Homo sapiens: one gene and its partner. The protein of the gene in region 2 interacts with the protein of the main gene of each other region in a biochemical or structural test. Each region holds a gene or a part of one and is shown on either strand. Other genes may lie near its edges.

Region 1 (3,819 bases), on a different chromosome or scaffold from region 2:
TAAGATGCAGATGCAGCCCCTCACCAGCTGTGCCCTTCAACCTTAAACCTCCTAGCCTCCAGAACGATACGATTTTTTTTTTTTTTTTGAGACAGGGTCTCACTCTATCACACAGGCTGGGGTGCAGAGGCGTGATCTTGGCTCACTGCAACCTCTGCCTCCCAGGCTCAAAGCAATTGTCCCACCTTAGCCTCCTGAGTAGCTGGTACTACAGGTGTGTGTCACCACGCCTGGCTAATTTTTGTAGAGACAGGGTTTTGCCATGTAGCCCAGGCTGGTCTCGAACTCTTGGACTTAAGCAATCTGCTCACCGCAGCTTCCCAAAGTGCTGGGATTACAGGTGTGAGGCACCATGCACAGCCTAGAAATATCTATTCATTATAAATTTCCCAGTCTGTGGTATCTGTTATAGCAGCACAAAACATTTAGTAAAAAGGTTTTTTTGGTCACACATGGCCATGAGGCACTTGGCTTAGCAAACCTCCATAATGCAGGGCCTCAGGTGTAGAAGGCTGTGGGCAGCAGCACTGTACCTGCTGTGCTCCTGCCTGCATCTTACCAACCACCATAACATTTTCAATGTTTCTGTTTTTTAAAATGGGTTGCTGATTCTTCCCAAGAACAGGCTTCTTGCACTCAACATTTCTCAGTTGTTCATTACCTCACACAGTTAAGTTCTCTATTAAAAAAGAATGAAATGGGACTTTCCAATTTCCTGTCCAGCTTGTAAAGGCTCAGAAGTCATCACTCCCATCCTCACAACAAGAAAGCTGGCAAACTTAAAATCAATGACTGTTCTCAGATCCATCAGATAATTGAGGTCACATGAAAAAACAATAACCCCAAAGATGGAGAGACAGATATGCAATGCTAAGAATCACAGCTCATTGCGGGGCAGAAACCCTAGAGCCAGCACCAGCAGAGAGGAAAGGGGAACTGACAAATGGCAGAGACTGAGCATGGACCAGTAGGAGACAAAAACTCCAGGGGAATAGTCACTGGGGAGGTCCCCATACCAGTCTGAGTTTTACCTCCATGAGCCCCACCAGGCTCTCAGGGTGAGACTGGAGAAACATCTCCTCATACTCTGGTAGGAGGAGGGAAGAATACATCATTTAAAAGTATAACCAGGCCAGGTGTGGTGGCTCATGCCCATAATCCCAGGACTTTGGATGGCCAAGGCGGCAGGTTTGCTTGAGGCCAGGAGTTTGAGACCAGCCTGGGAAACATGGTGAGACCCTATCTCTACAACAAGAACAACAACAGCAACAACAACAACAAAATAGTTGGGCACGGCAGTGTGCCTGTGGTGCCAGCTACTCAGGAGGCTGAGATGGGAGGATCATTTGAGCCCAGGAGGTTGAGGCTGCAGTGAGTCATGATGGTGCCACTGCACTCCAGTTTCCCAACCAACATATAAAGGGCTCAGAGGTCATCTCAAAAAAAAAAAAAAAAAAAGAAAGAAAGAAAGAAAAAGGCATGACCAGAGCATTCTGTTATCCTTAACAAAGGGCTTTCCTCAAGGAAAACTATTTTACCAGAGCCTAACCACCTAGGGGTAAGGAAACACCCAATTCCTGCCTCCTCTATCGTTTATGTCTCTCCTAAGGGGGAGGAAAAAAACAAAACTGAGAAGCACATGTGAAGGCCACGGCCCAGGGACACAGGTTCACTAAAACACTGAGACCTAATCCCAGGACTACAGAACACTTCCTCTCCCCTGAAAGCCACATCAACAGGACCCCTGTGTAATAACAGGGATGCACACCTATAAGAACTGCAGGCCTCAGACTCTATTTAAGAAGGAATCTTGAAGAAAACCCAAAAACAATGGAAGACAAAAACAAGGATACACAGGAGATTTTTATCCCCCAGCATCACAAGGGCAGCAAACAGTAAACACAGCCCAACTCCCAGCCAGCCAAACGTACCTCACACTAAGGCCTATTAACCTGACGCCTAAGTTCCTCATATCAGAACCAGACTCAGACATAGTGGAGATTTTGGAACTACCAGATTGGGAATTTAAAACAACTACGATTAATATGGTAATGGCTCTAACGGAAAAAGTAGACATCATGTAAGAACAGATAGGCAGCATAAGCAGAGATGGAAACCCTAAGCAACAATCAGTAGGAAATGCCAGAAAGCAAAAGTCCTGTAACAGCAATGGGGACTGCCTTCAACAAGCTCAAGAGGCTGGACACAGCCAAGGAGAGACTCTCTGAGCTTAAGAATACGTCAACAGAAACTTCCAAACATGAAAAGCAAAGGGAAAAAAGAACGAAAGAAAGAAAACAGAATATGCAAGAACTGTGGGACAGTTACAAAAAGTGTAACATATGTGCAATGAGGATATCAAGAGAAAGAAAAGAACACAATAACTATTTGGAGTAATGAGAGCTGAGAAGTTCCCCAAACTAATGTCAGACACCCATCCACAGATCCAATAAGGTCAGAGAACATGAAACGGTAAAAAGCAGGTAATTTACACTGAGGCAAATCACATCAAACTGCAGAAATCAAAGACAAAAAGAAAATTAGAAAGGAAGATTCTCTCTTTGCAGAAATCTGGGAATTTTTTCCACAGGAAAAAAACATCCTACCTATAAAATGGCAAGAACAAGAATGACACTGGATTTCTCTTCAGGAACCATCCAAGCAAGAAGAGAGAGGAGGGAACTATTTGATTCTGTATCCAGTGAAATTATCCTTCAAAAGTGAAAGAGAAATAAAGATTTTTATCAGAAAAACAAAAACTCAGGGATTTAACATTTCAAGAAAAGTTAAAAGAACTTCTTCAGAGAGAATGAAAATGATTTGGTCAGAAACTCTGATCTATGTAAAGAAGGGGAAAAGCATCAGAGAAGAAATAAATGTAGGTAAAATTAATCTTTTATTTTTCTTATTTTAATTGCTCTAACACATTAACAATTTGTTCAAAATAAAATTTGTGTATTGGGTGACTGTAGCCTAAGGATAAATGAAATAAATGACAGCAATGTTATAAGCAGTGGGAGGAGTGAACTGGGAATACTTGGTTACAAGGTATTTGCACTACCTGTGAAGCAGCACAGCATTATTTGAAAGTGGATTTTGATTAGTTGTGAATGTATATTGCAAACCCTAAGGCAACCACTAAAATAAATATATATATATACACACATACACATTTTTGAGACAGGGTCTTGCTCTGTTGCCCAGGCTGGAGTGCAGTGGCACAATCACAGCTCACTGCAGCCTCAACCTCCCAGGCTGAAGCGATCCTCCCACTAGTAGATGAGACTACACGCACATGCCACCAGGCCCAGCTAATTTTTGTATTTTTTGTAGAGACAGACGGGGTTTTGCCATGTTGCCCAGGCTGGTCTCGAACTCCTGAGCTCAATCAATCCGCCCGCCTCGGCCTTCAAAAGTGCTGGGAATACAGGCATGAGCCACCGCACCCAGCCTGTATTTTTTGTTTTTTCTTTCTTTCTTTCTTTTTTTTTTTTTTAACAGACAGGGTTTCGCCACATTGCCTAGGCTAGTCTCAAACTCCTAGGCTCAAGTGATCCTCCTGCCTTGGCCTCCCAAAGTGCTGGGATTACAGGCATGAGCCACCATGCCTGGCCAAAACTTTTAAACAAAAAATCAGCAAATTGAATCCAATAATGTATTAATAATTATACACCACGACCAGGCAGGATTTATCCCAGGTGTGCAAGGCTAATTCAATGTTCAAATATCAATCGTAGCGGGGGCAGTGACTCATGCCTATAATCCCAGCATTTAGAGAAGCCAAGATGGGTGGATCACCTGAGGTCAGGAGTTCAAGAC
Region 2 (3,819 bases):
GGATCTTCCTTCCCTACTGTTTTCCCTCCCTCCCTTTCACTTATGATGATGATGGTGGTGGTGGTGATAGTGATAGTGGAAGCTAATGTAGATAAAATAGAAAAATGGTTTTTCTTGCTTTTTATATTTGTGAGATTTAATTACTTGAACTTTGTTTATGCTGCATACTTCAATTTTTCCCCCCTTTATGTTTGGTGAGTTTCAGTTTTACTAAAAGATAAGCTTATTTGGAATGTGTTGACTTTAAGCAAACAACAGTTTGAAAGTAATGAGGTTTTTGTTTTGTTGTTTTTTTAACTTTAGTACAGCATCTGTGTTTCAAGCACAGATTTAAGAGAATAATATAACCATCCTTTTTACTTTTCTTATTTTTTTTACTTGAAATTATTTAGACGTTGGTTTTACTTAAGTTTAGTAGCAGTTTTCCCACTAATTTAGAAAAATATGGACATATAATTTCCCAGAATTATTAAGGAAGAACACAAAGCAGGTATTTTAACTGATTCCATGATTTTAAGAAAGCCCTTATCATTATTTAGAGTTGAGCATTTGCAGCCCATTAGGCCATAATATATTGATGAATTGGTAGAGTTGTAATGCTTCCAAGTCTGCAATGAATCTAGTGAAGTCTCCTTTCCAAAATTGGTGTTCTGTGATCCCAGCCTGTGTGTTGGATTTGTGCTGGTGTTTTTGTTTTTAAGTGAGATTTCAAAAATGTGTAGAAGATTTTATTAGATTATTTGGGGTTTTAATATGATGAAGCAATGTATATTAAATATAGGGGTTTTAAATTTTTAATCTTTCCAGTTGGCAAGTAGATATTACCTTTGCACTAGTTATGACACTCATTATTTAATTTAAGGTTTCCTTGGGAAATGTAATGTCAGAGTACGGTTGAACTTAAGCCTCCCTTTTAAATCTGTTTTTTTTTTGTGTGTTTTTTTTTTTTAAGATTTCATGGGATGTCCTTTTGTCCCAAATTGAAAATATTTATTCTTTCTTTTTGTGATACTTTACTTGAAGGGAGCCCTGCTGTTGTTACTGGACTAAGTCAAACGCTAATGAATTCTGCTTTGCAACCTTGTCTTTCCTAATTATCTGGCCTTTCACCTCCCTCACCTGCCTTTGACCAACATTGGAAATTCTTAGATGTGATGAATTTGGCAGAGAGTCGCAGGATGTTTTTTATTATGTATTTATTTTATCAGAGTATATGATTGAACGACCAGAGCCAGAATTCCAAGACCTAAACGAAAAGGCACGAGCACTTAAACAAATTCTCAGTAAGATCCCAGATGAGATCAATGACAGAGTGAGGTTTCTGCAGACAATCAAGTAAGCAATTATTTGTTTTGTTTCTTCTTTTCTTAAAAGTACTTCCGAGGAACTACTCATCTACATTTTTTAATTTTGGTATGACTAACTTGAAATGCTTATTTGAAATAAAATCTCAAATTTTTAAATACCACATTTTATTAACTTTATGGCGTTTGGTTTCAGAGTACAGCATTTTTTAGAATGTTTAATTTTAAAACAACAATGAAATGTGCATAAACTGGAATGTAGTTTGAACTACATAAATGATGGGAAGATATAAATGTCAGATAAATGAATAGAGAAACTGGATATATCCTAGAGATTGGTAGTAAGATATACCAAAATAATTTTTATTTCAGAAATAGCAGCAGTCATTAAGGTAAGTAACGTACTCTTAGGCATGAGTAGTGTTTTCTAAGACTGACCAAATAGCCTCTAAATCCTTGCCTTTGGGGGATATAGGTTAAATAAGACCAAGAATACTCATGGGGCCAGAAGGCTGGCTGGTGAGCAGCAGCAAGAAGGGTCATCCTAGAGCAGTAGTTCTCAGACCAGGGACACTCTTCTGGAGTACAGTGAAGGGTGAGAGGGTAGGGGATTGAGTGAAAACATAATCCCTACATAAGTATCTTTAAACTAGAAAGTCTGATAATTTTCTTCAGCCTCAGTGGATAAAAAACAAAGAAAGCTGGGAATACTTGCAGTGTCACTATCAATGCATGGTTTTGGTGAAACCATAGGTAGATATTGCTGGGGAGAAAAGATTTAGCGCAGGTCTTTTTCTGGAAGAGGCTGTGACATATGTGGTAACTTTGAAGAACCTAAGGAGACTCACTTGGAATAAATAGTAACATTCATCTTTTGGAGTTTGGGCAGTGGGAGGAGTGGCAGCAGCCAGGCAGCCCAGCTTTGTGAAGGCCCTCAGCATGCCATGGCCCACATGCATCTGATATGCGCCTTCCCCACTTCCAGGATGCCCAAGAGGACGGTCAGCTCAGCTGATGGGACAGTGAGGGAAGATCCCAAAAGGAGATTGATGTGGTTGTCAGCTAAACCTGCTCTTTCAGTAGTGGAAATTGAAGCCCCAAAAGGTAGCAGGAAAAGATAAATCTTCAGGCAAAAAAGTGCAAACAAAAGAGAAAAGAGTAGGAAAGTGAAAACAAGCCAAAGTAGCTAAGAATAAAGATTTACCTGCAGAAAACAGAAAAACTAAAACTGAAGAGAGTCCAGCCTCTGAAGCAGGAGAGAAAGAAGCCCAGTCTGATTAATATCGCATACCATGTCTTATCAGTGGTTCCCCGTCTCTCTTCTTACATAATCCAGGAGAATATTTTTATCAACTATGTTGTAAATGCATGTTTTTTAGTAGCTCTAATGTTTTTTAATAGCTCTAGAAACATTTAAGGAGGGAATTCCACTGCATTCCATTTTTTAAGTGTAAATGCTTTTTTTTTTAAAGAGGTGAAATAATTTAATTTGCTGGTTATTTTTTGGTACAATGGGAAAATAATGTTGGATATTGAATTATGGGAAGCCTTGACTGTTATGGGTGTCAGCTTAACATTCCATAGATGGGTGGTTAGTTTTTATATCCCATAATATAAAGCATACTAAATGGCAAAGTGGAGTCGCAGTCCTGCATTTCATGTCTTGAACATTTTTAATTACTTCACTCTGTCACCCAGGCTGGACTGCAGTGGCATGATCATAACTTACTGCACCCTCAACCTCCTGGGCTCAAGCAGTCCTTCCACCTCAGCCTCCAGAGTAGCTAGGACTACTGGTGTACAACACCACACCAAGCTAATTTCTTTTTTTTTTTTTTAATTTTTAGTAGATAACCACATCTCCCTACATTGCCCAAGCTGGTCTCTAACCTCTGAGCTCAAGTGATCCTCCTGCCTTGGCCTCCCAAAGTGTTGGGATTACAGGAGTGAGCCACCACACCTGGCCTTAAATTACTTCTACTCTTCATGTTGTTTTTTAGTGGAATTGTTTCCTTGGGCAAACCACTCCTTGAGCCTGGCTCTACCTATCAGAATTGTGTGCACTCTGTAACATCTTTGGTCATGGTAGTCCTGTTTTTCTAATAACTTTGTTAATGTGCTGTGAAAGATTAAAGTATATAGTGTATATGCTATTAAATTGTGAATTGGTGGGACGTATGTGACAGCTTATCAACATTTGAAGGTACTGGTACTTGATAGCCTTTTAAGGTAATTTTGCCTCAGTTGTAAGCTGGAAAGTCACTGGAATAACTTTAGAGAATAATAATGATACGTGGCTTTTTAGATTTTGCAGTACATATGTTCAGAATTATGTACAAGTTGAAATGTCTGTGTACTGATCCTCAACACAACTGATGAAATCTCAATTATGAAAGAAAAAGAAAACATTCATCTTTTGAAAATAGTATTCTTTGTCATTCACATTGAGAAATGCTATTTTAGCTTGTTTGGATACCTAGCTAGTTTGGATACTCTCTTTTGAGTCACATAAAGA

Evidence for each region.
Region 1: the proteins of PDCD10 (region 2) and CCM2 form a complex in vitro, tested with the Homo sapiens proteins (one study listed by IntAct).

Annotation. Positions count from the first base shown.
Region 1 is NC_000007.14:45,059,096-45,062,914, reverse strand, and holds part of CCM2 (cerebral cavernous malformations 2 protein), read right to left. Parts: intron 1-3,819. UniProt on the Homo sapiens protein: Component of the CCM signaling pathway which is a crucial regulator of heart and vessel formation and integrity. May act through the stabilization of endothelial cell junctions. May function as a scaffold protein for MAP2K3-MAP3K3 signaling.
Region 2 is NC_000003.12:167,693,112-167,696,930, reverse strand, and holds part of PDCD10 (programmed cell death protein 10), read left to right. Parts: intron 1-1,208; coding exon 1,209-1,335; intron 1,336-3,819. UniProt on the Homo sapiens protein: Promotes cell proliferation. Modulates apoptotic pathways. Increases mitogen-activated protein kinase activity and STK26 activity. Important for cell migration, and for normal structure and assembly of the Golgi complex.